Linked DNA regions of Homo sapiens: regions 1, 2, 3 and 5 are each linked to region 4. The links come from fine-mapping of genetic effects on gene expression. A gene starts in region 4. Each other region holds a variant in brackets. All regions are shown on one strand. Distances are between the middles of the regions. Region 1 overlaps ZNF410 (zinc finger protein 410). Region 2 overlaps LIN52 (lin-52 DREAM MuvB core complex component). Region 3 has its middle 16 kb from the start of LINC02274. Region 4 holds the start of PTGR2 (prostaglandin reductase 2). Region 5 overlaps ZNF410 (zinc finger protein 410).

Evidence for each region. PIP is the estimated chance that this variant, and not a neighbour inherited with it, causes the effect.
Region 1: its variant is fine-mapped to the expression of PTGR2 in whole blood (TOPMed, PIP above 0.99).
Region 2: its variant is fine-mapped to the expression of PTGR2 in skeletal muscle (GTEx, PIP 0.98).
Region 3: its variant is fine-mapped to the expression of PTGR2 in whole blood (TOPMed, PIP above 0.99).
Region 5: its variant is fine-mapped to the expression of PTGR2 in lung (TOPMed, PIP 0.92).

What each region holds. Positions count from the first base shown.
Region 1 is chr14:73,926,557-73,933,054 of GRCh38, reverse strand. It overlaps ZNF410 (zinc finger protein 410), which reads right to left. Exons shown (of 12, transcript NM_021188.3): 12 at 534-1,552. The coding sequence ends at 1,514. It overlaps FAM161B (FAM161 centrosomal protein B), which reads left to right. Exons shown (of 9, transcript NM_152445.3): 9 at 1-779. Among named protein-coding and RNA genes, the nearest start is that of FAM161B, 20 kb to the left of the region's middle. The variant A/G (reference allele first, on the strand shown) is at 3,537.
Region 2 is chr14:74,198,990-74,205,487 of GRCh38, reverse strand. It overlaps LIN52 (lin-52 DREAM MuvB core complex component), which reads right to left. Exons shown (of 6, transcript NM_001024674.3): 6 at 3,995-6,498. Among named protein-coding and RNA genes, the nearest start is that of VSX2, 37 kb to the left of the region's middle. RefSeq lists a silencer at 3,115-3,315. The variant A/C (reference allele first, on the strand shown) is at 3,920.
Region 3 is chr14:73,810,962-73,817,459 of GRCh38, reverse strand. No RefSeq gene overlaps it. Among named protein-coding and RNA genes, the nearest start is that of LINC02274, 16 kb to the left of the region's middle. The variant G/A (reference allele first, on the strand shown) is at 3,603.
Region 4 is chr14:73,848,395-73,854,892 of GRCh38, reverse strand. It overlaps PTGR2 (prostaglandin reductase 2), which reads right to left and starts at 3,062. Exons shown (of 10, transcript NM_001146154.2): 1 at 2,950-3,062. RefSeq lists an enhancer at 3,267-3,316 and a silencer at 2,926-3,328.
Region 5 is chr14:73,887,118-73,893,537 of GRCh38, reverse strand. ZNF410 (zinc finger protein 410) reads right to left here. Exons shown (of 12, transcript NM_021188.3): 2 at 1,330-1,511. The coding sequence starts at 1,362. Among named protein-coding and RNA genes, the nearest start is that of ZNF410, 3.5 kb to the right of the region's middle. The variant A/C (reference allele first, on the strand shown) is at 3,738.

The DNA of each region.
Region 1 (6,498 bases), 78 kb before region 4:
TGTGCCTGTGTGTTTATGTGAGCATGAGGTTCATTTTAAGTAAACTTAAAATTTCCCAGACAACCAAGATTTTCTACTAGTAGGTGAACTTTGGAATAATTTTCTTCTCACCAATAATAATTGGATATTCTGGCTCGGTGCAGTGGTTCATGCTTGTAATCCCAGCACTTTGAGGGGCCAAGGCAGGAGGATCGCTTGAAGCCAGGCGTTCAAGACCAGCCTGGGCAACACAGACCTCATTTCTACCAAAAAAACCACAAAAAGTTAGCTGGACTGGTGGTACATGCCTATAGTCCTAGCTATTCAGGAGGCTGAGGTGGGAGGATGCCTTGAGCGTAGGAGTTCAAGGTTACATTGAGCTATGATTACACTACTGCACTCCAGCCTGGGTGACAGAGCAAGACCCCATCTCAAATCATAATGATGATGAGTGGATATTTTCTCAGTAGCTGTGGAGACAGGATGACTGATAGCAAGAGTGCCTGCTCTAACTAAAGCACCTTTCTCAAGCTTTTTTAAAAAAACTATCTTTGTGGAAAAATTCAGAAGTATCTGTTTTTATTGCCATTTTCTCAGATGCGTCTTTTTTGGTGGTGACAGAGTAACTATCACCTGGGCTTAAGAAATGAAGATGTTCTTGTTGTTTCCTAAGACTCCTCGGTTCAGTTTTACTGGTATGGAATCCTAAGGGTAAATCAATACACTATTTTAAAGGGAAAGATTAAATTCTTAATCTCTAAGAAAACAAATTTTGTATAAAACAAGAGCCAAAGAACTGACTGGGCTGTTTTGTTTATTTAAAGGAAAACCTGAATCTCTGCATCATGTAATTTTTAACTTTAAAAAAACAAAAACATGAAATCCCTCTTAACATGCTACTGTATGTTCCATTAACGAAGAAAGCAAAGTGACCAAGTAGAAGTGTATAGGACAAGATAGTACCTCAGCCTGGGCCAAGGGGAGATTCAAGTAATTTATTTTTTTGCAGCCCAGTGGCAGAGAGTCTCTTACTCAGGTTGCTAAAGGGAGAATGTAACAAGAGAATTGACATCACTCCCTTCTTCAAAGCAACAAGGCATCTTGAAAACTCAACTTCCTGGTGAAGCTCTGTTGTTGGTAGCAGGAATTATTTCATCCATGTGAAAAGACAGCTGAGTCTGGGATGAAAACTCTTCAAAGGAAAACCTCCCCTCAACAGTCAGAATGAAGAACTTCAGCCAACACATAATCAAATTCACTTTTGGTCTATCCCAGAAATTTGCAGTGGGAAGAGAGGTAGGTACAGTTTCCCAGCCCACAGTCATTGCTTCATTCCTTGTCTGATCAGATGGTAGTTAGAAAAGAAGCTCTCCTACATCCATCTTCTATACCAGGAAAGAGGAAGAGTGGCAAAAGCAGAGTCTTGTGCCTTCAAAGATTCATTCTGGTTCTGTTGTGGGCTAAGGCATCCTGTTCCCAGTATACGCATTTTGAGATCAGATAGAGTTGCTCTTCCAGGAGTCAGCACCCACGCTCATGTCCGTCTTTCAGTTAAATCTCCTTGGTTTAGTAACTGTAAAAGATTGAAAGCAAATCTAGAATAGGTTACAGTTGAATTATAGAAAAAATAATTCATAGTAAAAAGTATTAAGAGTGGAGGATGGAGAATGCACTACAGGGGTGAATGAAGGCTATCTACTTCCAAAGCAAACACATGCACGGACTGATAGATGTCACTGTGGCCTTGGGACAGCACTTTAGCCATGTCATAAGGCTGGCATTTTAACTCTGGCAATCAAATATTCTGAGTCTATAAGCCAAACTATTGTTTGTGTAGTTACCTACTCATCAGTCAGTGACAGAGGAATCTCTAACTTACAGGGAAAACAGAAATGGTGGAACCAAAATCTTATACGTGTCAGCCAAAGGATAGGCTGAAGGCTCAAGTAGGAGAAGGAAATAGGAAGAGGAGCTGTTCCTTTATAAGTACTATATGAGAGCTGAAACCCACTCATAAAAGATCTAGGGGTTCCTTGGGCTTAAAAGAATGATAAGCCTAAGGGACTCCTGCATAATGGCAACTACCACTAACATTCTACTCTATACACAAGGCTCTATTCAAAGGAGTTTTGAAATAATGAAATTGGCTTCCATTTTAATATAAAAACAAAATGAGGCTGGGTGCAGTGGCTCACATCTGTAATCCCAGCACTTTGGGAGGCTGAGGCAGGAGAACTGCTTGAGACCAGAAATTTGAGACCCACTTGGGCAACACAGTGAGGCCCTGTCTCTACAAGAAAATTTTAAAAATTAAGCATGGTGGTACATGCTTGCAGTCCTAGCTACTTGGGAGGCTGAGGGAGGAGGATCACTTGAGCCCAGGAGTTCAAGGGTGCAGTGAGCTATGATCATGCCACTGCACTGCACTCCAGCCTGAGTGACAGACTGAGACTGTTTTCAGACACACAAAAATGAGATGGGAACAATTCAGTAAAATTCAGAACAAAAACAACTTATTAAAATCTAATCAAATAAATTCTTCAGCTTGAGATGTATTTACTTGGTGATCCTAATTTGGATGAAGGTAATTTATACAGTAGAATTTAATGATTGGGCTGGGCACCATGGCTCATGCCTATAACCCCACCACTTTGGGAGGCTGAGGGAGGAGGATTGCTTGAGGCCAGAAATTTGAGATCAGCCTGGGCAACATGGTAAGACACTGTATCCACCAAAAAAACTTTTTTTTAAGAGTTTAATTATATGGAATTTAAAGACTTTTAAACAAAATCTAAAGAAAAAATTAAACCTTAAAGAAACCACATATTCCATTTGATGCTGTGTGGCAGGAAAGTTAAGAATAGTGTGTTTTTAATGGAGGCCAAGATCCAGATCTTTGCAGTCAAACTTAGCAAAGGTACTTTATGAGAAATATTATAGAATTTGTAATTTCTATTTGTGCCTTGATTTGGAAAGCATTCTAAGAGGTAGTCAAAACTAGCTGGGAATCTCTTATACTGGTTCTTGAGTTCAAGAATGTGAACTCAATGTAAATATGGAGCCCCATTTAGAATGACCTTTAGTAAGTATGACAGCCCAAAAGCCCTGGGGTTCCCAGTTGGGCCTGTGCAATGAGTCCTCCATCTAATTCTCAGATGTGGCACAATAATGAGGGAAAATAGAGATTGTCCACCTGAACCAGAGAGGTGACTTGTAGTTTCTGATATTTTTCCCATGGTAATTTTTCTTCTTTTTTTTTTTTAAAGAGTTTGGCTCTGTCACCCAGACTGCAGTGTAGTGGCAAGATCATGGCTCACTACAGCCTCAACTTCCTGGGCCCAAGTGATCCTCTCACCTCAGCCTCCCAAGTAGCTAGGACCAGCTAATTTTATTTTATTTTTTGTAGACATGGGGTTTTCCTGTGTTGCCCAGGCTGGTCTCAAACTCCTAAGCTCAATTGATCCTCCCACCCCAGCCTCCCAAAGTGCTAGCCACCGCACCCAGCCTCTCATGAAAATTTCTGATAACAGATTTGGTTGTTCTCTGATATTCTTGAT[A/G]AGCTATTTTTATTTTTAGAGCATATTTACAGGAAGTACAAGTTCATCAGTAGACTTTGATCCATACTGCTTGGTGATCTCCAAAAAAGGTGAAACGGACATGTGTTGCAAATAGCCTTCACCTTCTCTGGCACCTGAAAGTTCTTAAGGAATCAACATTCCTCACTCACTGGAGAAATAGCAAGTTATTACCTAGACCTTGGATGAGGAAGAGGCCTAAGCCTGGAACCCTGAGGGCCTCACAGCTTGAAAAAAAACTGAAGGTATTGGAGGACCCAAACTAGTGAAGAAAGAAAAGGAGGGGATAAGCAGTGGAAATGCCTGTGATACGAGGAGGAGAATAATGCTAAAAGTGAAGAAAACACAAAAGAAGTGAGGCTCAGACAGAGGGTATGTTTGTAAATATACAAAAACCCATGAGGAAAAAGTGACAGTGCAGGATTTTGAGCTACATCCAGGACAGCACTTTCCCTTTTGTGTTGTTAATATTTTTCTAAGTGTTTTGGGCTTCCATTATGAAACTGGGTTTTGTGCCTTCCTGGAGTGAAGACCATACTTCCTTTTTTTGTTTGATTTTTGGGATAGGATCTCTCCCAGGCTGGAGTGCAGTGGGACAATCATAGTTCACTGCAGCCTCGAACTCCTGGGCTCAAGTTGATCCTCCTGCCTCAGCCTCTGGAGTAGCTGGGACTACAGGTATGCACCACTATGCCTGGATAATTTTTTAAAAAACTTTTTGTAGAGACAGGATCTTGCTCTGTTGTCCAGGCTTGTCTCGAACTTCTGGCCTCAAGTGATCCTCCCACCTTAGCTTCCAAAAGTGCTGGGATTATAGACATGATCCACCACACCCAGGTCTTTCGTTTTTTAGGCAGCCTGTGTTATGCTGTCTCCCTGAGGCTGTAAGTGGGCAGCACCTATTATACATGGATGCTCTGAGGCCAATTCCAAGACTTGTGCCTAGGTTCTAGGGAACAAATGTACTATTACTGGATATTCTGAATACACAAATCTGATCACGTCATACCCTACTTCAAACCATGCAGTGGTTCTTCAGTGCCCCCAGGATAAAATCATGCCTTGTAAGACCTTTCAAGAGACTAGCTTATCTTTCCAGCTCTCAATTTTCCTCTCCAGCCCATCTCTTCATCCCATGTCCCATCACACTCAACCCTATTTACAGTTCCACAGAGGCCCTCTACTCCCTTACCTTCTACCTTTGTACACACTGCTGTCCTTCTGCCTGTTATATTCTTCCAACTCCTACTTCTCCATCAAGATGATGTCTATTCATCCCTCCCATCTCAACTTAAACTCTAAAACATATTCTCTGACTTCTCCCAAGACTGGAACGTACTACACTTAAAAACTGCCAGTTTAGGCTGGGCGCAGTGGCTCATGCCTGTAATCCCAGCACTTTGGGAGGCCGAGGCGGGTGGATCACCTAAGGTCAGGAGTTTGAGACCAGCCTGGCCAACATGATGAAACCCCGTCTCTATCAAAAATACAAAAAATTAGCTGGGTGTGGTGGTGGCCGCCTGTAATCCCAGCTACTCAGGAGTCTGAGACATGAGAATTGCTTGAACCCAGGAGGTAGAGGTTGCAGTGGGCCGAGATTGTGCCACTGCACTCCAGCCTGGGCAACAGAGTGAGACTCCGTCTAAAAAATTAAAAAAAAAAAAAAAATTGCCGGTTGATTAATTGGTCACTTCTCCCATCCTAACCTCACTGTACAGTGCAACTCCAGCACCATATATATAGTTATGAAGGTCCTAATTCTGCCTATAAGCTATTTGAGGCAGAGACTATATTTTGTTTACTATTGTATAACTAGTACCCTGCAGAATGCCCCACACATACTAGGTATGTGGTAACTAGCCGCTGAATGAATTAAATTTTCATACATCTGGCATTTATTTGGGTAACGTGGAGAATTTTAAAGATATTTACCAATACAGGAGAGAAAAGCTCTGAGGTTTCAAATATAAAAAAGAAAAGGCTAGGTGCTGTGGGTTGGCTTGCTCGAATAATAATGTGTACTAGGTAAAAGAAAAACGAGATGGTTTTCCTGAAATGACGATTTCAGGGCAACCCTATGGTTGATGAGAGAAGTATTTCTTGTATAAAAGAATCACAATTAGGCCGGGCGCAGTGGCTCATGCCTGTAATCCCAGCAGTTTGGGAGGCTGAGGCGGGTGGATCACCTGAGGTCAGGAGTTCAAGACCAGCCTAGCCAACATGGTGAAACCCCGTCTCTACTAAAAATACAGCCGGGCGTGGTGGCACCTGCCTGTGGTCCCAGCTACTCAGGAGGCTGAGGCAGAAGAACCGCTTGAATTCGGGAGGTAGAGGTTGCAGTGAGCCGAGATGGTGCCACTGCACTCCAGCCTGGGCAACATAGCAAGACTCCACCTCAAAAAAAAAAAAAATCATAATAAACACAGAGGGAACAAGAGAATTAGGATATCACCATTTTGCAGGCCTTAATGAAAAATAGATCTAGGCTATGATCAGTAATGGTTGCCAAAACCTTTACATAACCTACCAGTCAATCTTAAGATCAACTGATTGTCATGTGCCTCCTGATGAGATGTAATAGGAAGCAAGAGCACCATTTATGAAATATTCTTGCCAAGGGGGAAAAATTGAATCTAATCAAACCTCTAAATGTAACTACCAGTTTTTAGGAAATACAGTGGATAGAGAAATTAATATTAACAAAAGGAGTCAATCAGCCAAAACCAGAATGTGGGAAAATCTTTAGGACAAAAACTCCCAATTCCTGGCCGGGCGCAGTGGCTCACGCCTGTAATCCCAGCACTTTGGGAGGCCGAGGTGGGTGGATCACTTGAGGTCAGGAGTTTGGGACCAGCCTGGCCAACATGGTAAAAGCCCGTCTCTACTAAAAATACAAAAATTAGTGGGGCTTGGTGGCAGGTGCCTGTAATCCCAGCTAATTGGG
Region 2 (6,498 bases), 350 kb before region 4:
GCAATTATATACGTAATGGGTAAGATATGCCATGCACCATTCTCAACACTTTGCAATACTCGTTTAATCTCTACAGCTACCCTAGTAGTTAGGTGCTATTTGCACCCAGGCAGCCTGACTTCAGAGCCTGTGCCCTTATCCATGATGCTGATATGACTCTTTAAAGTGGAAAAAGTCCTAAGGAAACCAAGGCTTAGAGAGAAGTAACTTACACAAGATCACCCCTGCCTCTCTCTCAAAATCCAAGCACTTACTATATCTTAGACCAGCAATGAGGCTATGAACACCGAATGTCAAGGCACAGTTCATTCTTTCAACAAATGCTTATTTTAGCACCTATTATGTGCCAGGTAGTTCTGTTTATAACCAAAGAAACTGTAGGAAATTGAACAAATTTGGATCAATTCTTTGGCATGTCCCAAAAGTTATTTTTAAAAGTCAAATCTTATCATTATCCTCTCTGTGCCTCAGAAAACTGAAGGTAGAAAAACAATGCAACTCTGATTACTTGAGTTTTTTGGCTCCTCAGATTCTACATAACTGAATCTCCTTTGGTATTGGAGGTCACTTTCAGAAACATCAGGTATAGAGATCGAGACAGAAAGCAGAGGGCAAGAGAGAGATGAAAATATGTGAGCCCAATTCTGCTCCGAACTTGGGTTTAATTGAGATTCCAACTGCCACTCTCCCCTGCATTCCTTTGTCCCTGGCTATGACCAAGTTTACGGCTGTATCGCCCCAAGTAATCCCCGTAATGGGCTGCAATCCTGGGGGAGCTGTTTTTGTTCATTAAGTGACCAACCTCTGAGCCACATGGAGCGCGGCCAGTTACAGCTTCTTGCCCTGGCAGATGGGCCACTTTTCTGTTTTAAAAAAACAGGGATCTTTCAGGAGAGAGGAGATAGTAGGCAGGGGTTGGGGACACAATCAGGGACATAAAGGTGATGGGTGCTAGAAATGAAGGCCAGAGTGAGGGGGGCAGTGGGTGCCCCTTCCAGGTCATGCAGTCTTCTAGGGCAGAATTCACTCACGTGCTGTGTGTTAGCTTTCTTTGCAATGGTAACTATAGTTGTGTAGGGCTTACAGTTTGTGAAGGGCTCAATGTAGTTCCTGGAGTGATGCTACCAGTCTGCAGAGGTGGGAGGAGTGAGGGGGCCATAGACAGGAGGCAGCGAATGAACAGAGTAGGGCAAATAGCTGAGAGGGGGCTTCCCCTGAGGGTCAGAAATTCTCAGTGCTTCAGACTCCAGCTCAAGTGACAGGGGCCAGGCTGTGCCAAGAGCAGTTCTCTCAAGCCAACTGACTCTTACCTCTCTGCCCACAGCCCCAGTGTCTGCTTCTTGAAGTTGGGGAAACATTGCAGCAGCTGCTTGTTGGGAGACCCGTCCCCTCACTGCACTGCCCCACCCCCTCCCCGCCACCTGCCCCACCACCCCATGTCTGTCCTCTGGGTAGAGTTGTGTGAAGCGGAAGACAATTTGGGGCTTATTAGTGTCCCAGGGAGACATGTAACTTGTGTTGCTGGGACCCAAACAGCAAGAGTCTTAGCGGCAAACTCCAGCCGAGAAAAGACTGAGGAATTGTCTCACCTAATTACAGGGAATGGCCCTCTTTGTGTTTGTGATTCGGTACGGTTGTCCGATCGCTTTTGATCGCTTTTCTCTATTTGCTGGCTCAGGCCATGCTGGAATTGTGCTAATTAGAAGAGAAATGGACAGAGTGATCCTGTCAGCCCTGGTTACTGGTGGGGACAAAGCAGAATATTATTCTGAGGCAGTGTTTTGTGAGGGCCCTTCTTCCAGCTCTCATTAGGAGGAAGGGGCCCACAGGAGGGGAAGGTTCCAAATGCCTGGCCCAGCTAATGGAGCACTGGGGTGTTTCTGTGCTAATTAACAGGCTTTGCCAGCACTCACGCCAACCAGGAGCCTCACAGTTACACCTGGTATCGTCTGAAGCCCCCAGCTGCTCGAGAGGAAAAAGCGCCAGGCAAAGGGTGGGAAGGCCAGTGGCCTCTTTAGGCATAGACAAGGACACACACCCCAAATGCCAAAAAGCCTACATAGATAGGAAAAATCAGTTCCAGTCCATCAGAACTTACAACCGTGGAGACACCACCCTTTGCCACTCTCTGGGGTTGGGGGTTGCAAGACTCTCTGGTGAAACAAAGCCCACATAGGGACCAGGTATCCTTGTAGCTCTCACGAGATGAAGAAAACAGAAAATGGAGAACATAACCAAATTCTTGGAGACGGAGTTAGTGCAGAAGCTGAGAACTGGTAAGAGACTGTGTTATTTGGCTTCTGCGACCATCCACCTTGGCCCAACTGTCCATTTCCTCACTTCCTGCTCTGCCTGTTCACCTTCTTGTGATGTCTTAATCCTGGAGGAAACAGGAGGGGTCAGGGAATCCCACTGGAAATGAAATTTCTCGGCTTCATTTCAAAGCTCCTGTGGAAGTCCAAACACACTTCTGAAGCCACAGGGACAAGGGAATGACTTTCATCAGTTCCATTTTCACTGCCTTGATCTGGGAGCATCCAGAAGAGCAGCTAGAGAACTAAAACCACGGAGCAGTTAGCAAGCATCCATTTAAAAAATATGACAAAAATGGAAAGATAAAAATGAATGATGGCATTTCAATATCAACACAATTAATACCCTGTGAACTTTAAGTGTTCTAACCTATGGAAGGCAGGCCAAGCAAATCAGCAGAGGCCTAGAATCTGTGAGACTGAAGACAGCAAGAAATAATGAGAGTGCTGGTAAGAAAAAAATGTCAATAAGAATTTGCAAATGTGTCTCCAAGCTCCAATACTATGCTTTTCAGAATGTTGCTGCTCACAGCTGACAGATGCTTTACAGGATGGTATTTGGAATGGCAAAGGAAAAGGGAAAAAATATCTGTAGGCAAATAATAAACAATTACTTACCGTAAAAATAGTCTCTAAAGACTTAGAACACTCCTAACACTGTCCCTACTTAGTCAATCAGCCATGCTTTTCTAGATCACAGAAATCTACTGTTCATCCAGATGTCTTTTTTGGAAATAAATGATGGGCCTATGATGAGAAGCAATTTGCTTTCCTTAAAATGAAATGCTTTCTTTAAAAGGGCATATTCTGGTCCAGAGCAGGTAAACTATCAATGAGTGATAGCAGTAGCAATAATGAGTACTTCCTCTTTTCTAGTTCTTGAACATGGTTGAAAAGGAACCCACACTAAGGGATTTAGAAGATGGCAGATAAATACTTGTTTTCAATCTATCATGTGTAACCAGAAGCCTGCAAGCAAACAGGTTTTGAACCCCTAGTTCAAAGACACTGAAGAACTAGATGTGCAGGAGACAGCTATACCTTGAGAAGCTTTGAATTTAGTAGGGCAATAAGATATGTACTCAGTGTCAGGCGTAGTGGCTCACACCTGTAATCCCAGCACTTTGGGAGGCCGAGGCGGGAGGATCACTTGAGGCCAGGAGTTCGAGACCAGCCTGGCCAACTTGGCAAAAACCCGTCTCTACTAAAAATACAAAAATTAGCTGGGCGTGGTGGCATGCACCTGTAATCCCAGCTACTAGGGTGGCTGAGGCAGAGAATCGCTTGAACCCGGGAGGCAGAGGTTGCAGTGAGCCAAAATTGCACCACTGCACTCCAGCCTGGGCAACAGAGTGAGACTCTGTCTCAAAAAGAAAAAGTACTCAGACCACTTAAATATAAGGCAGACTATGGTAAGAGTCACAGGGATGATATGGGTAAATGCTATAGGAATGTAGGGGAAGGACCATTTCCAGCTGGATCATCAGGAGATTATAGGAAGCATAGGTTTGCCAGATGCAAAAGGGATCCAAGACCTTCTAGGAACTCAAAGGCAGGAGCAAAGGCACTCAAGTGAGAAACTGGGAACTGTTCAGAGTAACTGCAAC[A/C]GAGACTTCATATATAGGAGAGGAAGAAAACGAAACGGAAGGGTTGCTTAGGATTACATGTAGAGAGTCTTAAAATGCCGGGTCAAGAGATTGAGACTTTATTAGTAGACACGGGAAGGTATTAAGGGTTTCTAAATACTACTTTCGGGTGTTGGGCAGTGGTAGGATAGAATGGAAGGCAGGAGACCAAGTAGATGACTGTAAAGCCCCCAACTATCCATTAAGTATATTAAGGGGGAAAACAGTAGATTATTTATCATTACAGTTGTACTTTCTGGGGAGGTCTGTGCTTTAAATATCCAACTCGGCCCTCTGAGGAAAAACTCACCCTCCTGTAAAAGGGACATATTTATTATGAAGACACAAAAACCATCACATACAAAGTACAATACTATAACATCCTGAAATACATATACACACATACTGTACATAAATTTATATTATCAATATAAAAATACATCATTAACATTTCTAAGGATGACAAATACTAAACCAATAAATATTGCAATTCTAAAACATCTACTTACATTAAGTGCTGGTGAATAGGATGACGGTAAAAGAAAGAGGACAAAGCGGACCAGAAAACCAACCACCTGGCTTCCAGTTACAGACTTGAGTTGGTTTGGGGGAGGTATCCCAATCAATTTCCCCAAACACTGAAAAGTGCCTGATGTCATCAACTCTCAAAAACAGAGCAAAGGAAGAATTTGACATTATGGCACTATTTTTTGGCCACATGCGCGCGCGCACACACACACACACACTCTTCAACCGCATTTAGTGAGATACAGAAATATCAATCGATAATAAGTTTAAATTAAAATCAAAGCCCCTACAACCTAACCTTCTATGTAGCACCCCAGCAGAATGTTTTACTTCTCATACTCATCTTTCCTATCTTGTGTTAAGTCTTTTTTCCTTTCAATAAGTAAAACTACATTGATGGTCAAATGAGAGAAAAATCCAGCATTAATTCTAGCATGAGAACAAGGCACAAATGTCAGAAAAGGTTTAATGGATCAGCTGTTAAACTGAAGAGTGCCATGCCCTAGCAAACACTCACGACTCAAAACCATAACTTTTCTTGTGTCCAAACACCATCAGACTATTGCCACAGGGATATTCTTTTTTTTTTTTTTTTTTTTTTTTTTTTTCTGAGACAGAGTCTCACTCTGTTGCCCAGGCTGGAGTGCAGTGGCATAATTTCGGCTCACTGCAACCTCCACCTCCCGAATTCAAGCGATTCTCGTGCCTCAGGCCCCCAAGTAGCTGGGACTATAGGCATGCACCATCATGCCCAGCTAATTTTTGTATTTTAGTAGAGACAGGGTTTCACCATATTGGCCAGGATGGTCTCGATCTTTTGACCTATGATCCACCTGCCTCGGCCTCCCAAAGTGCTGGGATTACAGGCGTGAGCCACCATGCCCGGCCCCAGGATATTCTTTTGTGCAAAGTTTAGGAAACTCCATGCACTTCTCAAAACATCAGATGCTGGGGACTGGCTTATACAAGAAATATGGAGAACACATATAATAGATTTTAGCCATGGGCTAGATTTTCAGATTTTAACAGAGACAGATAAGTGGTGAAGAACTCCATGAAAGTTGTATTTAAGTCAGAAGATTCTTTTTCGTGTGTGTGCGTTTCTATTATATAGATGAACTATTTCATATGTGCTGTCAGAGGGGACAATCCCACCATCCCATAGCATGTTACTTTAAGGTCAATTAGGGCTTCTAGCTTTCAACCAAATGGGAACTCCTATAAACCATCCCGTTTCTCTTGTCTTTCAGGCTATACTGACTTTCTTGCTTGAAGCTGTAACAGATTAATTAGAACTCAAAAGTCCTTTCTGTCACCTTCACATTGGTCTTTAGACAACCTTGGATGGGCCTTTCACTATACAAGCTAATTCCAGGAGGGACTCAGGGATCCCTCTGCCCGAAGTCAGAACTAGAAGGTGGGGCTGGGAAGTAAGGAATGAAAAGCAAATGGGACTATCATAAGAGGTATAGAAGTTTTAAAAAACAGATATACATTTCGAGAAGATTCTGGTTTCTTCAGCTGGGGATTCTGGGAACTTAGTATATACTGGAGAGTTCACAGGTCAGGCTGCATGGTCTGGTCCAGAATCTACTTGGTCTCTGGTCTCCTCACATCGTAAACACTTTCTAAGAGATCAAGAACAATTCAAAAGAACCCATCCAATCAACATGTCACAACTGACTGCCATGACTGAGTCAAATCAACCGTAAGATCCTGGGGCTCCTGAATCACTTCCAGAAATGAGAAAGCAGGACTTCGACCTTTAAGAATGATATGCCCTCAGCTGTTACCAATATCCGAGGCTAAGAAGGTTCAAGTCTGAAAGTTGATTGAGTAACTGCAATGATCCTTGGGTAGAGCAGATTCTTCTCTTGCTGCTGAATGTCCTCAGACGTGTAGAGTGCCAGGAGCAGGGGAGAGGGCAGTCCTGGAGGTACACCCTCTGGCCTCTCCCAAGCAAGCAGTGAGGTGTGCATTGTTAGAGGTGCACCGGGAAGGGAGCTTGGTTTCGGACCCCAGGACATCCTGTC
Region 3 (6,498 bases), 37 kb after region 4:
CCCAGGCTGGTCTTAAGCTCCTGGCCTCAAGCAATCCTCCTGTTAAGGGAGATAACAGACATGAGCCACTGCACCCAGCCCTTTTTTCTAGTTTTTAAAAGACACTGAAGAACTTACACTTCCATATATGTGATAGTCTTTCTCTTTCTTTCATTTATTCATTCAACAAACTTTACAGCACACCTACTGTGTGTCAATGGTGGATGGTCTCTGCCCTCACGGAGTCTGCAGCCTGGGGCGCCTTCTCATTACTGCACCTGTGCTGCTGCCGCCTCTATGCCTTTCTAGGCCTCCTCACTGAATAATGTCTGCCTAACTCATAGCATGTTCCCGGTGGTTACAACCTCCACCTTTGCAGGCGAATATGAGTTTTTGGACCATCCAGAGTCCTTCTGAACCATGTCTGAGGAATAAAATGTATGATTAAGCAGGAAAAAAAAAGATTAAGTCCTGATTTTTTCCTCTAAAAACCTCAGGAAAAAAAACCCAAAATATTTTAGTGGCAGTATCAACGGGATACATTTATAGCTCATAAGATGATGCTGTAGAAGAACAATGTTATTCAGATATAAAAAATGACTTATTACGTCATGGTCATAGAAGGAGAACCTTTTAAGTCAAGCCCAGGGTTCTCAAGAGGCAGCCTTTCTCTCATGTTTTTTTTTCTTTGTGTTATTCTTTCCTCTAGATAGAGGCGCGGGGTGAAGGGAGCGGTATCTTTCATCTCTTCTTTCTTTCTCTTGAGTACACAGATGGTGACTGGTGCATGGCTCAAACCTTTCATAGCTGCCAGGGCTTTCCAGACTCTTGATTGCCCTCATTATTTTTCCTGCCTTGTCCAGGGTTCTCCTTCCAAGGTCATCTTCTGGTTGTGATGTAAGCCTCATCACAGCTCCCATAACACATCACAAGACACATACACTACAGACACTCACAAAGCTGAACTGCAAGAGAAAACAGAAAGCAAGCTGGGCTTTCCATTCACATAGGAAAGCGTCTCAAGATGCCTGGGAAAGTGACTCCAGGGCTTCTGACCCAGTGAACTGAACCTACTTTCCTTCTTTTCTTTTCTTTTCTCTCTCTCTCTCTCTCTCTCTCCCTTCCTCCCTCCCTCTCTCTCTCTCTTTTTCTTTTCTTGAGACAGGGTCTCGCTCTGCCACCCAGGCTGGAGTGCAGTGGTGCAATCATAATTCACTGCAGTCTTTAACTCCTGGGCTCAAGCAATCCTCCCACTTCGGCCTCCCCAAGTGTTGGGATAACAGGCATGAACTGCCATACCCGGTCATTACTATTTCTTGACGCAAGTGTTGGTTACACAGAGAGCTGCTTTGTAATTATTTGTTAAATTGTCCAAATATGTTCTGTGCATTTTTTCTTTTCTTTTCTTTCCTTTCTTTCTTTCTTTTCCTTTCCTTCTCTTTCCTTCTCCTTCCTTCGCCTTCCTTCCTTCTTTCCTTCCTTCCTTCCTTTCCTTTCTTTCTTTCTTTTCTTCTTTTTCTTTTTTGAGACAGGGTCTTGCCCTATTGCCTAGGCAGGAGTGCAGTGGCACAACCACGACTCACTGCAGCTTCAACCTCCCAGACTCAAGCCATCCTCCCACCTCAGCCTCCCAAGTTTCTGGGACTACAGGCACATGCCACCACACCCGGCTAATTTTTTATTTTTTGTAGAGACAAGGTCTCGCCATGTGGCCCAGGCTGTTCTCAAACTCCTGGGCTCAAGTGATTCTCCCATGCCAGCTTCTGCAAGTGCTGGGGTTACAAGTGTGAGCCACAATGCCCAGCCTGAGCCTAGTTGCTAAGTCTAGAATATTCCTTCCTGGTGTGTGGACATAGCAAAGGTTAAATTCAGTGTTCCATAAGGCAATTGTATATCTGATGAGCACAATTTGTTATATCAGAAGACCACCATCTCTGCAAATCAGGAGGCTTTATTCACTCATTCATTCATTCATTTATTCACCAGATATGTATGAAGTGACAGACACTTTAATAGGCAATAGGAAATCTGAAGCTGGAAACACAGTCTGTGCCCTTGAGGGGTTCATGGCAGGGAGACAGATCTAAATAGAATCTGGTGTGATATGGCCTGAAGGTAGCCATGACTTCTTCGTCCACCCTTCTTCCTCTTTTTTTTTTTTTTTTTTTGATTGAGTCGGAGTCTTGCTCTGTTGCCCAGGCTGGAGTGTAATGGCACGATCTCGGCCCACTGCACCCTCTGCCTCCTGGGTTCAAGCAATTCTCCTGCCTCAGCCTCCCAAGTAGCTGGGATTACAGGCGCCCGCCACCATGCTCAGCTAATTTTTATATTTTTAGTAGAGACCGGGTTTCACCATGTTGGCCAGGGTGGTCTCGAACTCCTGACCTCGTGATCCGCCTGCCTCGGCCTCCCAAAGTGCTGGGATTACAGGCATGAGCCACTGCACCTGGCATGGTTTTTTTTTTTTTTGAGATGGAGTCTTGCTCTGTCGCCCAGGCTGGAGTGCGGTGGCAGGATCTTGGCTCACTGCAACCTCTGCCTCACAGGTTCAAGTGATTCTCCTGCCTCAGCCTCCCGGGTAGCTGAAACTACAGGCCTGTGCCACTATGCCCAGCTAATTTTTGTATTTTTAGTAGAGACAGGGTTTCATCATGTTAGCTAGGCTGGTCTCGAACTCTTGACCTCAAGTGATCCACTTACCTTGGCCTCCCAAAGCGCTAGGATTACAGGCGTGAGCCACCACACTCAGCCTTCAACCACACTTCTAAGCCCTGTAGATCCAGCCCAGCATCCAAATTACCCGCTCCAAAGGCATGAGCAGGAAAAGGAGGGGCAGACATCACACATCACCAACAAAACTTCCCAATCATCGCCTTTTAAAAACATCTCTGCTTCCTTCCCCAAAGTGCCCTCTCCCATTGCAGTTGCTGCACCTCAGCTCTCATCTCATCCCATCCCAAAAACTAAGATCTTAGCTTTTTCTCCCCTCCTCACATCACCCCTCCACTTGTAACCTGGTTTAGTGAAACAAGACTTGGCCCCAAGCATCTCTCAAGATTGCCTCTAAGGGGCCTCAATTCAAAGTGGTTTGGTGTTGCTGCACTATGACGTGAAAGCCCAGGGGAAGCCTGGAGTCAGAGGAAGGGCGATTCTCAGAAGCCAGACTAATTTTTGTAGTGGCTGCACCTACCCTTGATTTACTGAATCAGAATCTAAACCAAATTCCGTCTCTTTTTCTCTCTCTCTTTTTCTACGTGTTGAAAAAGTTGACTGGTCTGTTCTGCAGGACAAAGTTTCTCACAGTCTGAATGTTGCTGATCACAATATTGCTGTATTTCGTAGTAGTTAGATTTTGAGGTTAAAGTGGGTTCACGTGTGATTATTTTGGCCACACTACTTTTAGGGTTGCCAGGCTTAGTAAATAAAAATACAAGATGCCCAGTTAAGTTTTAATTTCAGATAATGAGCTTTTTTTTTTTTTTTTAATAGAGTCTTGCTGTATTGCCCAGGCAGGAGTGCAGTGGCGATCTCGGCTCACCGCAACCTCTGCCTCCCAGGCTCAAGCGATCCTCCCACCTCAGCCTCCCAGGAAGCTGGGACCACAGGTGCGCACCACCTCGCCC[G/A]GCTACTTTTTTAATTTTTTGTAAAGGTGAGGTCTTGGTATGTTGCCCAGGCTGGTCTTGAACTCCTGGGCTCAAGCAATCTGCCTGCCTCGACCTCCCAAAATGCTGGGATTATAGGTGTGAGTCACCGCGCCCGGTCCCTGAACTTTTTTTTTGGGGGGGTGGGGGCAGACAAAGTCTCACCCTGTTGCCCAGGCTGGAGTGCAGTGGCGTGATCTCAGCTCACTGCAACCTCCAAGTCCCTGGTTCAAGCGATTCTCCTGCCTCAGCCTCCTGAGTAGCTGGGATTACAGGCACGTGCCACTACACCCAGCTAATTTTTATATTTTTAGTAGAGACGGGGTTTCACCATGTTGGCCAGGATGGTCTCGATCTCCTGACCTCGTGATCCGCCCACCTCGGCCTCCCAAAGTGCTAGGATTACAGGTGTGTGCCACCATGCCCAGCCTGGTCCTTGAACATTTTTCAGCATATGTATGTCTCATGGAACGTTTGGGATATATTTATACTAAAATTTATTTGATATTTATTTGAAATCCAAATTTAACTAAACATTGTGTGTTTTATCTGGAAACCCAAACTACTTCACAAGATGTATTGTGTCCATTCGTCAGGAGCTGAATATCTGGCTCTCGCTCTTTTTGCGATGTTAGAAGCTGTTGATGATCATGGCCTAGACTGATTATTTCCCTAGAGGCTGTAAAATGATGATATTCTAATTCTATCTTTTTTCTTCATTTCTTAGCTGGAATATGTCTATAAAGAGGAACTTTTCCTTGTCAACTATTTGGATTCCTTGGTTATTTTCATACAGAGAAAGCAGGCTACATGCTTAACTCTGTCCTTTTCTTTACCAGTTTTCAGAATAATTAATTGGTTCCTTAGAACTTGCCAAAAGTGACCAATGGGTTGTGTTCTTGACTTTAAAAGTATCATTATGATCTCAGATTTTTTTCGTTTTTTTTTTTTTTGAGACGGGGTCTCACTCTGTAGCCCAGGCTGGAGTGCAGTGGTGCGATCTCGGCTCACTGCAACCTCTGCCTCCCGGGTTCACACCATTCTGTAGTCCCAAGTAGCTGGGACTACAGGTGCCCGCCACCATGCCCGGCTAATTTTTGTATTTTTAGTAGAGACAGGGTTTCACCATGTTAGCCAGGATGGTCTCGATCTCCTGACCTGGTGATCTGCCTGCCTCAGCCTCCCAAAGTGCTGGGATTACAGGTGTGAGCCACCACGCCAGGCCGAACTCAGGTATTTTGACATGTATATATTTTGACCCATTGCAGTTGTTATTCTTTCAGACACTCAAATTGTTCCATATTTGGCCAATGAGAGTCTCTTGAACTTGGCTATTGGGTCCTTTTGATGCCACCCCAACGGTCTTTGTTAGGTTCTTTGCTTTCTGGTGTAACAAGATGTTCCAGAATCATCTTAAGCATTTCTTAGCTCTGGCATGGAATTAGACATTTCTCTTAGGAACTCTTTTAGTAGGAAATGATATTTAGAGATCAAACATTTCCTACTCCCCAATTTAAAATTACAACCCCCTGCAACAAACACATAGACCTATGTTCCCTGAGATCCCCTTACCTGATCTACTTTTTTCCATGCGGTTATCACCTTCTAACATATGAATTTAATTATGTTTATTGCTTGTCTCTCAGCATGAGACTGTAAGCTTCTCAAGAGCAGAGACTTGTTCACTGTCTGATACATAGCACAATAGCAGACACTCAATAAATACCCCTTTAATGAGACAATGACTATATATCACCAAATTACTTTTTTTTTTTTTTTTGAGACAGCGCCTTGTTCTGTTGCCCAGGCTGGGGTGCAGTGGTGCGATCTTGGCTCACTGCAACCTCCGCCTCCTGGATTCACGTGATTCTCATGCCTCAGCCTCCCGAGTAGCTAGGACTGCCACCATGCCCCGCAAATTTTTGTATTTTTAGTAGAGACAGGGTTTCGCCATGTTGGCCAGGCTGGTCTCGAACTCCTGACTTCAAGTGATCTGCCCGCCTCGGCCTCCCAAAGTGCTGGGATGACAGGCATGAGCCGCTGCACCTGGCCCCAAATTACATTTTTGAAGTGTTCATTCTCACTTCTGGTGGAGAATGTATTTGGGAGGGACTGTTGTGAAGCAGGGAGGCCACTAAAGAGGCTTTTTCAGTTGTCCAGGGGAAAAATGAGGGTGGCTTAGACTAAGAATGTGTCTGCGGAAATGTAAAGAAAAGTGAGGTAGAGACAAGAGGTATTTAATATAACTGACTAAACATGGTGATGGGCTGGATGTGTGGGATGAGGGAAAAGGAAGAATGAAAAATGACTTCTAGAATTTGCCCTGTGCAAATAGATGGATAAAGAAGCTAAAGGGGTGAAAGGGAGGGGAGAGGAGAGGGAGAGATTTTGAGGATAAAGAGAATGAAGAGCTCGATTGTGGAAATGCATGATTGGAAGTGCCTGTTAGCCAGGTGGAGACATAAAGCAAGAGGAGGATGGATGAGTCTGGGCTCAGGCATGGAGATGTAAAATTGGGGGTCATCAGTATTTTGGTGGTATTTAGAGCTCTGGAGTAGATGAGATCATTTTGAGAGCTTTAGACAGCGACTAGATGCTATTTCAGAACCAAGCCCTAAAGTACCCCAACACTAATGGTCAGGTAAAGGAGAAGCCTGCCAAGGAGACTGAGAAGAGTCTATCTCTATAGCCATAGAGGTAGAGGAAAACCAGGAGAGAGTATCATCGTTAAAACGAAGAAGGAAGAATGCCTCAAGAAGGAGGAAGTGGTCAACTGTGTCAAATGCTACTGAAGGGTCAAGTTTTACGATGGCAGAGGTAGACCCATTAGATTTTGCAACGTATAAGTTGCTGGTGACCTTTACAAGGGAAGTTTCAG
Region 4 (6,498 bases):
TACTTCAGGTTCAATTTTTCAGGCAAGAATCTTTAAGGGTGGTGCCACATCCATTCATCACACCAAGAGGTCCATAATGTCATGTAGGGCTACATATGTTTTAAAAAGGAAACTTTCTACAGAATCACCATATGTGTCAATTATATAAGGATTAAAAAGCCAAAGTTTTCCAAATTAAGTGGGTCTAAAAGTCCTTAAGTAGTAATAGAACCATAATGGCTAAATTTTCAAAGCAGTCTTTCCAAATGAAATATCATATTTGCCCTCTAATTACTGTCAATGGTATGCTTTATTTGTTTAACATATTAATATGTATATTATAGATTTGTCCAAACACTGCTTATCAGCATGAAAAATATACTATTAAAGTTCTCTCACTCTGCATTAAATTAGAAACTTTTCAAGTGTCAAATACTACAATTAATATAGGATAATTGTGTGATATCCCTCAATAGTACCAAAAAAACACACATTTCAAATATAGATAACTTGGCTGGGCACGGTGGCTCACACCTGTAATCCTAGCACTTTGGGAGGCTGAGGCAGGTGGATCACTTGAGGTCAGGAGTTTGAGACCAGCCTGGCCAACATGGTGAAACTCTGCCCTACTAAAAATACAAAAATTAACCAGGCGTGGTGGCGGGTGCCTGTAATCCCAGCTACTCCGGAGGCTGAGGCAGGAGAATCACTTGAACCTGGGAAGCGGAGGTTGCAGTGAGCCGAAACTGATCCATTGCACTCAAGCCTGGGGGACAAGAGCGAAACTTTGTCTCAAAAAAATAAATAAATAATAAAAATAAATAAAATATAGATACCTAGATTTAGTCATAAAATTAACAGCTAAAATAAGACACATCAAGTTCCAAGATCTGAAAGAAGGGTAGATTGTTAAATTCATCCCAAGTAGGGGAAAAAAACTCAGCAAATCCTATTTGCCTGGGATACTATTCCTACTTGGTGCTAATATTCCAAAATAATAACAGACGAATTTGCTCCGATGTGATGATAGAGTGTGTTGAGTGTTTACCTTGCAGCCTGGTAAAAGGGAAAGGTCATTTAAGTAGGAAGAACAGAGTACTTCTCCTAGTTCTAACCAGGTGGGAACTTGGAAAAAGTCCCTTCTCTCAACCTGTTTCCTTAATATTCCTAAATGCCAGGAACTGAGCACAGACTCATTCACTAGCCTGTTTAAACCACCTCCCCCACCCTCACCCCAAAAAAACTGTGAGGTTGGTAATATCATCCTCTCAATTTTATAGATGAGAAAAGGGGCCGGGTATGGTGGCTCAGGCCTGTAATCCCAGCACTTTGGGAAGCTGAGGTGGGCAGATCACTTGAGGTCAGGAGTTTGAGACCAGCTCCGACAAAACGGCGAAACCCCACCTCTACTAAAAATACAAAAATCAGCCCGGCGTGGTGGCGGGCGCCTGTAATCCCAGCTACTCTGGAGGCTGAGGCTGGGGAATCGCTTTAAACCGGGAGGTGGAGGTTGCAGTGAGCCGAGATCACGCCATTGCACTCCAGCATGGGCGACAAGAGCGAAACTCCATCTCAAAAAAAAAGAAAAAAGAGAAGAAAAAAGAGGTACAGAAAGAGAATAATTCGCCCAGAGTCGCCCAACTTGTAATAACGCTAGAACCCATACTCCAACACGGCACCTGCTATTTCCATCACATGAGCTTCCTAATACCTTTTAATACCCTTATTTCGTGCGATTATTCTGCCACTAGCAACCCTGTTGACCACGCCTTGTTATAAAACGTATCTTTCTGGGCCCAGAGCCGTGGCTCACACCTGTAATTCCAGCACTTTGGGAGGCTGAGGTGGGAGGCTCACTTGAGGCCAGGAATTCGAGACCAGTCTGGCCAACATGGGAAAACCCCGCTCTACTAAAAATACAAAAATTAAGCGTGGTGGTGGGCGCCTATAGTCCCAGCTACACAGGAGGCTGAAGCTGGAGAACTGCCTGAACCCAGGAGACTGAGGCTGCAGTGAGCCGAGATCCAGCCAGGACACTCCAGCCTGGGCAACAGAGCGAGACTTTGTCTCAAAAAACAAACAAACAAACCACGTGTCTTTCTGGATCTCTCTGCCAGTCTTCTCCTCCCCTTCCGGTTTTCTGGTCTCCCCCTTCCCCTCCCGAAGTCTTGCATGTGGAGATTCCTATCTTGCTCTTCCCTTTCTCAGTGACCTCCCTGAGCCCTGTGGCTCCTCCTACCAACCACTTTATATGGAAATTAATAATAATTTGCGTCTCTAGCCCAGAATTTCAAACTAACTGCCCAGCTCGTCAGCGCTAAGAGGATAAGGACTCGTCTGCTTTGTTCAATGATGTGAATCCAGGCCGGGCGCGATGGCTCACGCCTGTAATCCCAGCACTCTGAGAGGCCGAGGCAGGCAGATCACGAGGTCAGGAGATCAAGACCATCCTGGCTAACACGGTGAAATCTCGTCTCTACCAAAAATACAAAAAATTATCCGGGCGCAGTAGTAATCCCAGCTACTCGGGAGGCTGAGGCAGGAGAATCGCTTGAACCCGAGAGATGGAGGCTGCAGTGAGCCGAGATCGCGCCACTGCACTCCAACCTGGGCGACAGACAGAGCGAGACTCCGTCACACACACAAAAAAATGTGAGTCCAATCCCCTATGCCCGGCGCATGGTACGTGCTCAACAAATCTGTGTTAAATGAAAGTTTCAGAGGCACCTCAAACACAATTACGTCAAAACCTCAGGTTGCTTTCCCCCAGTAATTCAAAAAAAACCCCAAAACCTGCTTCTGTTTCTCGAGCATTCCCTATCTCAGTGTTGCGGGCAATAACGCCAGTGTCCCCGGTAGCTCCGGGAGGACGCCTAGAAGTCACCCTGGTTGAGAGTCTTCTTCCTCACCGCTGGGGCCCGAAGCAGCTTCGGGAGCCACAGTCGCGGGAGCCGCTCGCGCGTCACTGACCCTGTGGAGCCCGGGTGAACGAAATCTCGCGTGATTTGCCGGAAAGAGGCTGTACTGCACGACCCCAGCTCGCCCCCAGGCCTCGGCCCTCTGACCGCAGTACGCAGGCGCGCGACTAGGCCCGGCTCCGCGCCCCCTCCCCTCCCAGGGGCGGGGTTTGGAAGCTTAGGGATTGGAAGTTTAGGATTCCTGGGCGCCCCACGTTTCCGGGAGAAGCAAGGGAAATGCGGAACGTCAGGGGAGAGTTACTAGTCTGGGCAAAGTGCATTAATAACTTAACTGAGATTGGTTCCTTGTGGCCGCCCCTACTGCCTTGACCCAAAGAGCAAATCTTGCAGCCTTGACCAGTGAGTTCACATTTAGCAGTCCGTGAAGAAGTTTTATTAGTTTTGTGGATTTCTCCCTGAACCTCGATTGGGAAATTATAGTGAGACAGGGACCGTCAAGCCTACTCCTTGTTTTATAGATGGGGAAACTGAGTCTCGGAGAGCTGATGTGATTGGACCACCTACCTTTCAGCTGGTTAGGGGCAGTGCTGGGATAAAACCCCTCTCTCCGGACCCTAATCCAGGGCCCCTTTGCGCCTCTTTTATTTCACGAAGAATACCAAATTCCTCCAAGATTACCAGTGTGGGCTGATTTCTCAATTTCATTCATCGTTAGTCGTCTCCTTTTGTGCTGGACTGGGTTGAGAGAAGTGTATACCTAGGACAGCTTCGGATCCCCAGGGACTTCAAACCCTAAGAAAGATCATCTGAATTAGGCAGGTATAAGAATTGCTTGTATTCATGTGGGAGCTAATAGCTCAGCACAAGTCATGCATGGAGTAGCTGAAAGATGACTAGGTTGGTGAGCAAGGGAATAGTGATCAAACAGGTTGGAGTTCCTGGTAGCTTTATGTCTGAATATTTTTGCTTCTTTGGGAAAGCTTCAGGAAGGACTAGGAGAATTACACTACTTTGCAAACATTTTCAGACAGGAGCTAATCTCTTTTATCTGTCATGGACAGGTAGACAGACCTTCAATGCCTTTTGTAATGACTTAAACCAAATGATGAAAAATAAAATGCTCAAATAGACAAAAAGTAGTAGTATAAAATAAAGGTAATCTAGAACTTGATTTAAAAGAAACACTTTCAAAATAGAAAAGAAGCCCTGCAATATTAAATTAGTTTTGGGGCTGGACGCAGTGGCTCACGCCTGTAATCTCAGACCTTTGGGAGGCAGAGGCAGGTGGATTGCTTGAGTCAGGAGTTCGAGACCAGCCTGGGCAACGTGGTGAAACCGCATTTCTTCAAAAAATAAAAAATAAAATGAAATTAGCTAGGTGTGGTGGTGCTTGCTGGTAGTCTCTCAGCTGCTCAGTAGGCTGCAGCGAGCCTTGATCACACCACTGCACTCCAGCCTGGGTGACAGACTGATACCTTGTCTCAAAAATTTTAAATATATGTATGTGTATTAATTAGTTTTAGCTCTCTTGATTCTAGGGTCTGTGAACTCCTTGTAACAAGTGTGATTTTTCTCGCCAAAATGAGTTCCCAAAAATTCAAGAGATGAGTAGAGGATTTATAGGTACATTTCTATCCAGTTTATCCTCTTCTTCTAAATTTTCTCTAACACCAAGGATTACTATCATTTACATAATGCGTAGTTTGAGTTGGATAATGCCTTATATGATTTTTTGCCTACATGATTTAATTTTCAAAACAGCCCTATTATTATTATTACCATTTTACGAATGAGGAAACCGAAGTTAAGCTAGTTAAGTTCTAAGTCAGGTTAAGTAACTAATAAGTAAAGGAGCAAGTTATCCTGCCTGAGTCCAAGCACCTGACCCTTTGTTATATTTGCCATAAATCTGGAATTCCCTACTCCTCCCTCTTTGCAGAACTTTGTACTGCCTCCTTCTCATCGTTCAAGCAATTCCTGAGAATCATTTTCTTTTTTTTCTTTTTTCTTTTCTTTTTTTTTTTTTTTTTTTTTGAGACGGAGTCTCTCTCTGTCGCCCAGGCTGGAGTGCAGTGGCACGATCTCGGCCTACTGCAACCTCTGCCTCCCGGGTTCAAGCAATTGAGCCTACTGAGTAGCTGGAACTACAGGTGCATGCCACCACACCCAGCTAATTTTTGTATTTTTAGTAGAAATGGGGTTTCATCATGTCGGCCAGGCTGGTCTCAAACTCCTGACCTCAGGTGATCCACCTGCCTTGGCCTCCCAAAGTGCTGGGATTAAAGGCATGAGCCACCACGCCCAGCCCTGAGAATCATTTTCTAGACTTCACTAGAAGGAAGTGTCAATTCTTCTCATCTCCATCTTATCAAAAAAAAATACATAGTATATATTGTTTCATTCAAGCATGATAAATATAGGCCAGGTGCAGTGGCTCACACTCATAATTCCAGCACTTAGGGAGGCGAGACAGGAGGATCACTTGAGGCCAGAAGTTTCAGACCAGCCTGGGCAACATAGGAGACCCCTATCTCTACAAAAAACAAACAACAACCAAAAAAAAAAACAAAAAGAAAAAAAATAGCCAGGTGTGGTGGCACACACCTGCAGTCCCAGCAGCTACTCATGAGGCTGAGGCAGGAGGATCGCTTAAACCCAGGAATTCCAAGTTGCAGCTAGCTATGATCTCATCACTACATTCCACCCTAGGTGCCAGAGTAAGACTTTGTCTCAAAAAAAGAAAAAAAAAAAAAAAAAAAGCCAGGCACTGTGGCTCAAACCTGTAATCCCAGAACTTTGGTAGGCCAAGAGGTAGGAAGATCGATTGAGCCCAGGAGTTCAACACCAGCCTAGGCAACATGGCAAAACCCACCTCTACAAAAAATTTTAAAAATTAGCCTGGTGTGATGTGTGTGCCTGTTGTCTCAGCTGCTTGACAGACTGAGGTGTGAGGATCACTTGAGCCCAGGAGGGCGAGGCTGCAGTGAGCTGTGTTTGCACCACTGCACTCCAGCCTGGGCAACAGAATGAGATTCTGTCTCTTAAAAAAAAAAATGCATAATAAATATAAATACTTGGCCGAGCGCAGTGACTCACGCCTGTAATCCCAGCACTTTGGGAGGCTGACGTGGGCGGATCACAAGGTCAGGAGATCAAGACCATCCTGGGTAACACGGTGAAACCCCGTCTCTACTAAAAATACAAAAAAATTAGCTGAGCGTGGTGGGGGCGCCTATAGTCCCAGCTACTCAGGAGGCTGAGGCAGGAGAATGGCATGAACCCGGGATGCAGAGCTTGCAGTGAGCAGAGATTGCACCACTGCACTCCAGCCTGGGCGACAGAGCAAGACTCCATCTCAGAAATAAATAAATAAATAAAATAAATATAAATACTTAATCTAATATGTTTGTATACTCATTCATTAAATTATTTTTTAGTTTTTTCATTCATTAAATTATTTTTAAATGAAAATAACCTCGTATGATAGCAAATTACTCAGGAGAAATCATTCAAGTTTGACCAACCTGCATGGTATATGACACTTAGTGCAACATCAAAGATTATTTGATGCTAAATAAAACATTTTTCCATGGAGGTGATA
Region 5 (6,420 bases), 39 kb before region 4:
ATCCTATTTTTATTGTACTTTTTCCACGTTTAGATATGTTTAGATACACAATGTTTACCACTGTGCTTCAACTGCCTACAGTATTCAGTACAGTAACATGCTGTATAGGTTTGCAGCCTAGGGGCAATAAGGTATACCATACAGCCTAGAGTGTAGCAGGCTAAACCATACAGGTTTGTGTAAGTATACTCTACCATGTTCGCATAATAATGATATCAACTACCATCATATTTCTCAGAATGTATCTCTATCGCTAAGTGACACTTCACTGTAATTAAGTTAACCTCTGCCACCTTCTGTCAAACAGAGAAATGATAAAAATAATTACATTTTAAAATAATGGCTTAAAAAAAATCAACTGCATCATATTGATTACATTTTACAAAACACTTTTCTGTGTACTGGCTCATTTAATTATCGCATTAACCCAGTAAGATTTAAGATGTATTTTTTTTTGAGACAGAGTCTTGCTCTGTTGCCCAGGCTGGAGTGCAGTGGCATGATCTTGGCTCACTGCAAGCTCCACCTCCTGGGTTCACGCCATTCTCCTGCCTCAGCCTCCCAAGTAGCTGGGACTACAGGTGCCCGCCACCACGCCCAGCTAATTTTTTTTGTATTTTTAGTAGAGACAGGGTTTCACCATGTTAGGCAGGATGGTCTTGAACTCCTGACCTCATGATCCACCTGCCTCGGCCTCCCAAAGTGCTGGGATTACAGGCGTGAGCCACCGCACCCAAACTTAAGGCATATTTTACAGCTGAGGAATAAAATTGAAGACATTAAGTGACTTGTCTAAGGTCACAAGACTAGTTAGGAGCAATGCCAATCCTCAAATTTAAGTAATCTGATTCCAAATTCAGTGACCACTCTGCAACACAGATGTGCTAAATTTAAAGTAAGAAAAGTGAACAACAAAAAATGTTTAAATCCCCAATCACATTTAGAAAGAAAATACTTACAGATATATATAAAATAAACAAAAGAATTTGTAGTAGTAAATATTTATATACTTATACACCTATACATCACATGTATCTCATATTTATGTATATATTTATACATAAACATATATTTTTATTTATAAGATTTTATTACATTATCTAAATGTATGATTTCACATATACTGAAAAACAGATATAAAAACAATCACAAAAAATATAATTTTTAAATCTTTGAAAAAATAGTAACAATCAAAACCATATAGCTTAAAAAACCTAAAATATTTATTATCTGGCCCATTAAAGAAAAAGTTTGCTGACCCCCTAAACTGAAGATAAACTTTGAAATATAGCCCACCAAAAGAAAAGGAAACAAGCTGACTGGGCTCACCTCTGGTTTGGATTCTAACTCATCTGATAACATTGATTCAGCTTCCAAAACCTGTAGCTATTCAGGGGACAAGTTCAAATTTAATTCAGAGCCAATGATACCTTCCTGTTATGTTCATATTCCTCTAGGAAATACTATGCTCTTCCCGTAAGATGTTGTACTAGGTGGGTAATCAATGTAACCTAGAATAGGGGTAAAAAAGAGAGAGGGGGCATTAAGAGCAGTGGGAAAACACAGGTACATAAAGACACTTCTTTACATATACAAAAAAAATCACAACAAGCAAGCAAATAAAGAATTCAAACCGAAACACTTCTTTTAAAATACAACAAGCTCAACAGGCATCAAAACCCATAAAAATACTACGCTTTGATGCAGTATTTCAACCTCTAATAATCTAAAAAACTATCTTAAATATGGATAGAGCTATGTCCAAAGATGTCCGTCTTATCCTATGTAATAAACAACTGGAAGCAATGTATACACACACACACACCCCCAATTAGGGAATGGTTGATTAAATATGGCACTGTCACTTCAAAATATGCTGTGAAGGGTTGGGTGTGGTGGCTTACAACTGTAATCCCAGCACTTTGATAGGCTGAAGCAGGTGGATCACTTGAGGTCAATAGTTCGAGACCAGCCTGGCCAACATAGTGAAACCCCCTCTCTACTAAAAATACAAAAATTAGCTGAGCATGGTCGCAGGCACCTGTAATCCCAGCTACTCGGGAGACTGAGGCAGGAGAATCCCTTGAACCCAGGAGGTGGAGGTTGCAGTGAGCCAAGGTCAGACCACTGCACTCCAGCCTGGGCGACAGAGCAAGACTCTATCTCAAAAAACAAACCAACAAACAAATGCTATGAAGACAATGCAACAACAAGTGACTGACATGTTAAATTATAAAAATAAAATACAAAATTATATACTTGCTATTATTAAAACTAGTTATAATAAGCATCAGAAAAAGTAAAAGGAGATTCATACAGCTATGACCGTAGCTATACCGTGTGGTAGGCTGGTGTGACTTAATTTTCTTTTCTCAATTTTCCAATATTTCTAAAAGGCAACCATATTGTTTTGATAATTTTTAAAATTACATTTAAAAAAAAAAAAGTTAAAATTTGAAGAGCGTTTCCCAAAGGTAGTGCTCTCAGGACCCTGATGCGGCTGTTCTCTCTCTTTTATTTATTTATTTAGAGATGGAGTTTTGCTCTTGTTGCCCAGGCTGGAGCACAATGGCACGATCTCAGCTCACCACAACCTCTGCCTCCCAGGTTCAAGCAATTCTGCCTCAGACTCCTGGAGTAGCTGGGATTACAGGCATGAGACACCACACCTGGCTAATTTTGTATTTTTAGTAGAGACGGTTTCTCCATGTTGGTCAGGCTGGTCTCGAACTCCCAACTTCAGGTGATCCGCCTGCCGTGGCCTCCCAAAGTGCTGAGATTACAGGTGTGAGCCACTGCGCCCAGCCACTCCCTATAACTTAAATTCTTACTTTCTTATAGCTTAGTTTCTTTTCAGGATTTTGGAATGTGAGTCCATTTTATTTTGTACAATTGTTACTAAAATTGGGAGCACTATTACAAATAATCATACAGTGTAAAATGTATCCAGGATGGGTATATTTTCAATCAATGGGTACTTTAAAGTTTCCAATTAATACCAGGTAGTGTGGAAAGGTAGAACAAGACAGACTTTACAAAGAGGGCACTTAGGCTGGGCACGGTGGCTCACGCCTGTAAACCCAGCACTTTGGGAGGCCGAGGCGGGTGGGTCACCTGAGGTCAGGAGTTCAAGACCAGCCTGGCCAATATGGCGAAACCCCGTCTCTACTAAAAATACAAAAATTAGCCGGGCATGTGGCGGGTGCCTGTAATCCCAGCTACTCGGGAGGCTGTGGCAGGAGAATCGCTTGAACCCGAGAGATGGAGGTTGCAGTGAGCTGAGACTGCGTCACTGTACTCCAGCCTGGGCGACAGAGCAAGACTCCATCTCAAAAAAAAAAAAAAGTAACTGAATAAATGTTTTTTTGTCCTGTTGGTTTCTCCCTCTCTCTTTCTAAGCTACCTGAAATCCTCATTTTTCATTGTAAAAAAGTAACCATTTAGGCCGGGAGCAGTGGCTCACGCCTGTAATCCCAGCATTTTGGGAGGCCGAGGCAGGCGGAACACAAGGTCAGGAGATTGAGACCATCCTGGCCAACATGGTGCAACTCCGTCTCAACTAAAATACAAAAAATTAGCTAGGTGTGGTGGCATGTGCCTGCAGACCCAGCTACTCAGGAGGCTGAGGTAGGGGAATCGCTTGGACCTAGGAGATGGAGATTGCAGTGAGCCGAGATCGCTCCACTGTACTCCAGCCCGGGCGACAGAGCAAGACTCTGTGTCGAGAAAAAAAAAAA[A/C]AAAACTAACCATTTACAAGATATAAATGGAAATGCTCCTTCCAAGTTTCCCACATAAAGTATCATAAATCCCTGACTTTTCTTCCACACATATTTTTCTTATTCAAGCACTGCAACAGTTTCATATGGTTTATCCATCCCTCTATTTAGAGAGGAAGGAACCAAGGCTCAGTATATTACTTAATTACCAAGTTATTAAGTTGCAAAGCCAGGACTCCCACCCACACCAGAAGTATGCAGAAATCATTGGCGTGAATAGTGATTACATCTCTCTAGGTTTGACCCTGAATCTCCATGGCCTAAGAATTCCTTTTCTCAGCCTAGGCAACACAGTGAGACCCTATTTCTTTTTTTTTTTTTTTTTTTTTTGAGACTGAGTCTCGCTCTGTCACGCAGGCTGGAGTGCAGTGGCGCGATCTCAGCCAGTGAGACTCTATTTCTACAAAAAAAAATTTTTCAATTAGCATCACATGGTGGCACATGCCTGTGGTCCTAGCTACTAGGGAGGCTGAGTAGGAGGATTGCTTTAGCCCAGGAGATCGAGGCTGCACTGAACAGTGATCACGCCACTGCACTCCAGCCTGGGTAACAAATGGAGGCTGTCTCAAAAAAAACAAGAATTCCTCTTCCCCAATTCCAGCTTGTCTTAACAAGCCAAGAAATTATCAGATGTTTGTTGTTTAAGTCATCCTTAAGGTTCCTCCAACTTTGAGATTCCAGGATTGTAAAATCTCTGAGGAACCAGACAACTATTTACTGTCCTTTTTATGTTATCTATGACATCTTTTTATTTCAGTGTTTTCACTTCAATAATCTTTAAAAATTAACACGAGCATTTTCTCAAGCACTGGGTATTCATATTATAACTAAGTACTACCATACAATTTTTGTGTCCAAGTTTATGATTTGTATGTGTACGGTATGAATAAAATAAAAAATAGCAGGATGCATTAAGATATGCAACTGAACTCAAAAGAATTTGTACTAGAGCACTCAGTATCTTATCAAGTGTACTGTGGGGATCTCATCTTTAACAGAGCAACGTACTATGTACATTAGCTATAGGTGTAACGGCAAATACACAATTAAACATTCCTATTCCCAATTCCTTACTCAACAGATTTCCAAAACTGCAATGTAAATCTTTTTTAAAAATTAGTTTCACTAAGATATCGTTCACATACCATACTATTGACTCATTTAAAGAGTACAATTAAAATATCTTTAGTTCATTCAGAGTTGTACAAGCAGAACCACGATCAATTTTACAATATTTCATCACCTCACAAGGAAACCCTGTGCCCATTAACGGTCACTTCCCACTTCTAATGTGTTTACTATGAGCTTAAAGGGCTTCCATACAAGCTTCCCAGTAAGCAACTGGTAGGTACTAAATATTTGTATAATGAATGAATGACACTACAAATGATACCTACATTTTTCTCTAGTCATCTCTTCTGAACTCCAAACCTTCATTTCTAACTGCTTGCTAGGTATCTCCACATGTATATCCAACAGCATCTCAAACCTAACAATGTCCAAAATCCAGATTATTATCTTCCTTACCAAACCTGTTCTTCTTGTATTACCTATTTCAATGATCGCCCAATCTTCCTCCCACTCAGCTGCAAATTCTAGGTCTTTAAATCTCTCTCATTCTCCATTTTTAAATAATTCCCGTGATTCTCTGTTCCCAGAATGTTCTCTGTTCCCTACTGTAATGCCCTGTTTAGGTCTCTCAGTAACTTTCTACTATACTATTAAAACAGGCCTCTAACTGGTCACCCCGCGTTTAAAATTCCTCTTTCCAATACATCCTTTATGCAGCCATTCAAGTTATCTTTCCAAAACAAAGAAATGCTTATGTCACTTCTACTCAAAGTTCAGTGCCTCGGAAAAATTGTCATAGCCCTAAAGGTAAACCCCTTCGTTTACAGAAAAACTCCCCAGAGCTAGAGATTCAGCAACTTGCCAAAAATTAGACATCTACTTAGATGCAAAACGTAAAAAACTAGAACTTAAAACTTCTGACTGCTACTTTAGTTGTCTTTTACTCTGCACCACACTAAGAAAAAACCAAGTGCAATTTCTCACTCCCTAACAAAATGCCCGACTTTATTTCCAAATGTTTTTTATTTATTGCAAATATGCTGCGTTGACCTTCGTTCCAACCTAAGTACTAATTCTTAAGTCCCAAGTTAATAATATTTAACTTCCAAATGGTGCCTAAATGCATTTCTGAGCCTCATGATCAAGTGGGATAAACTTTAATAAATTGGATTATCTTGAGAAACTTCAGAAAATAAATTCGACACGAAATGTATGAAGGCCGTAAACAATCCACACACTCCTGCCCCCCGAACTGACAGGCAAAGGAGAAACGGGCGACCCAGCCCAGCCGAGTAGGCAGCTGTCCCTTTTCCAAACCCAGAAAGTAAGTGGTATGAAAGGAGAGGGTAGCTCTGGACTGAAACATTCAGGGCAAGGCCTCCTGGCATCCTCTACCCCACACCACAAAGGCCTCAGAAATAAGGCCCCAAGGTCCGTAGGCAGGCCCCGGCTGCGGGTGCAGTCCAAGAGCCCCCGCCCCGGGGACTCGCTGACTCTGGCTTTCTCAGGACAGTCTGTTCCTATATCCCTACCCCCAAAACCAAGCAAAGGAGCAAGAACATCGCCCCTAAAA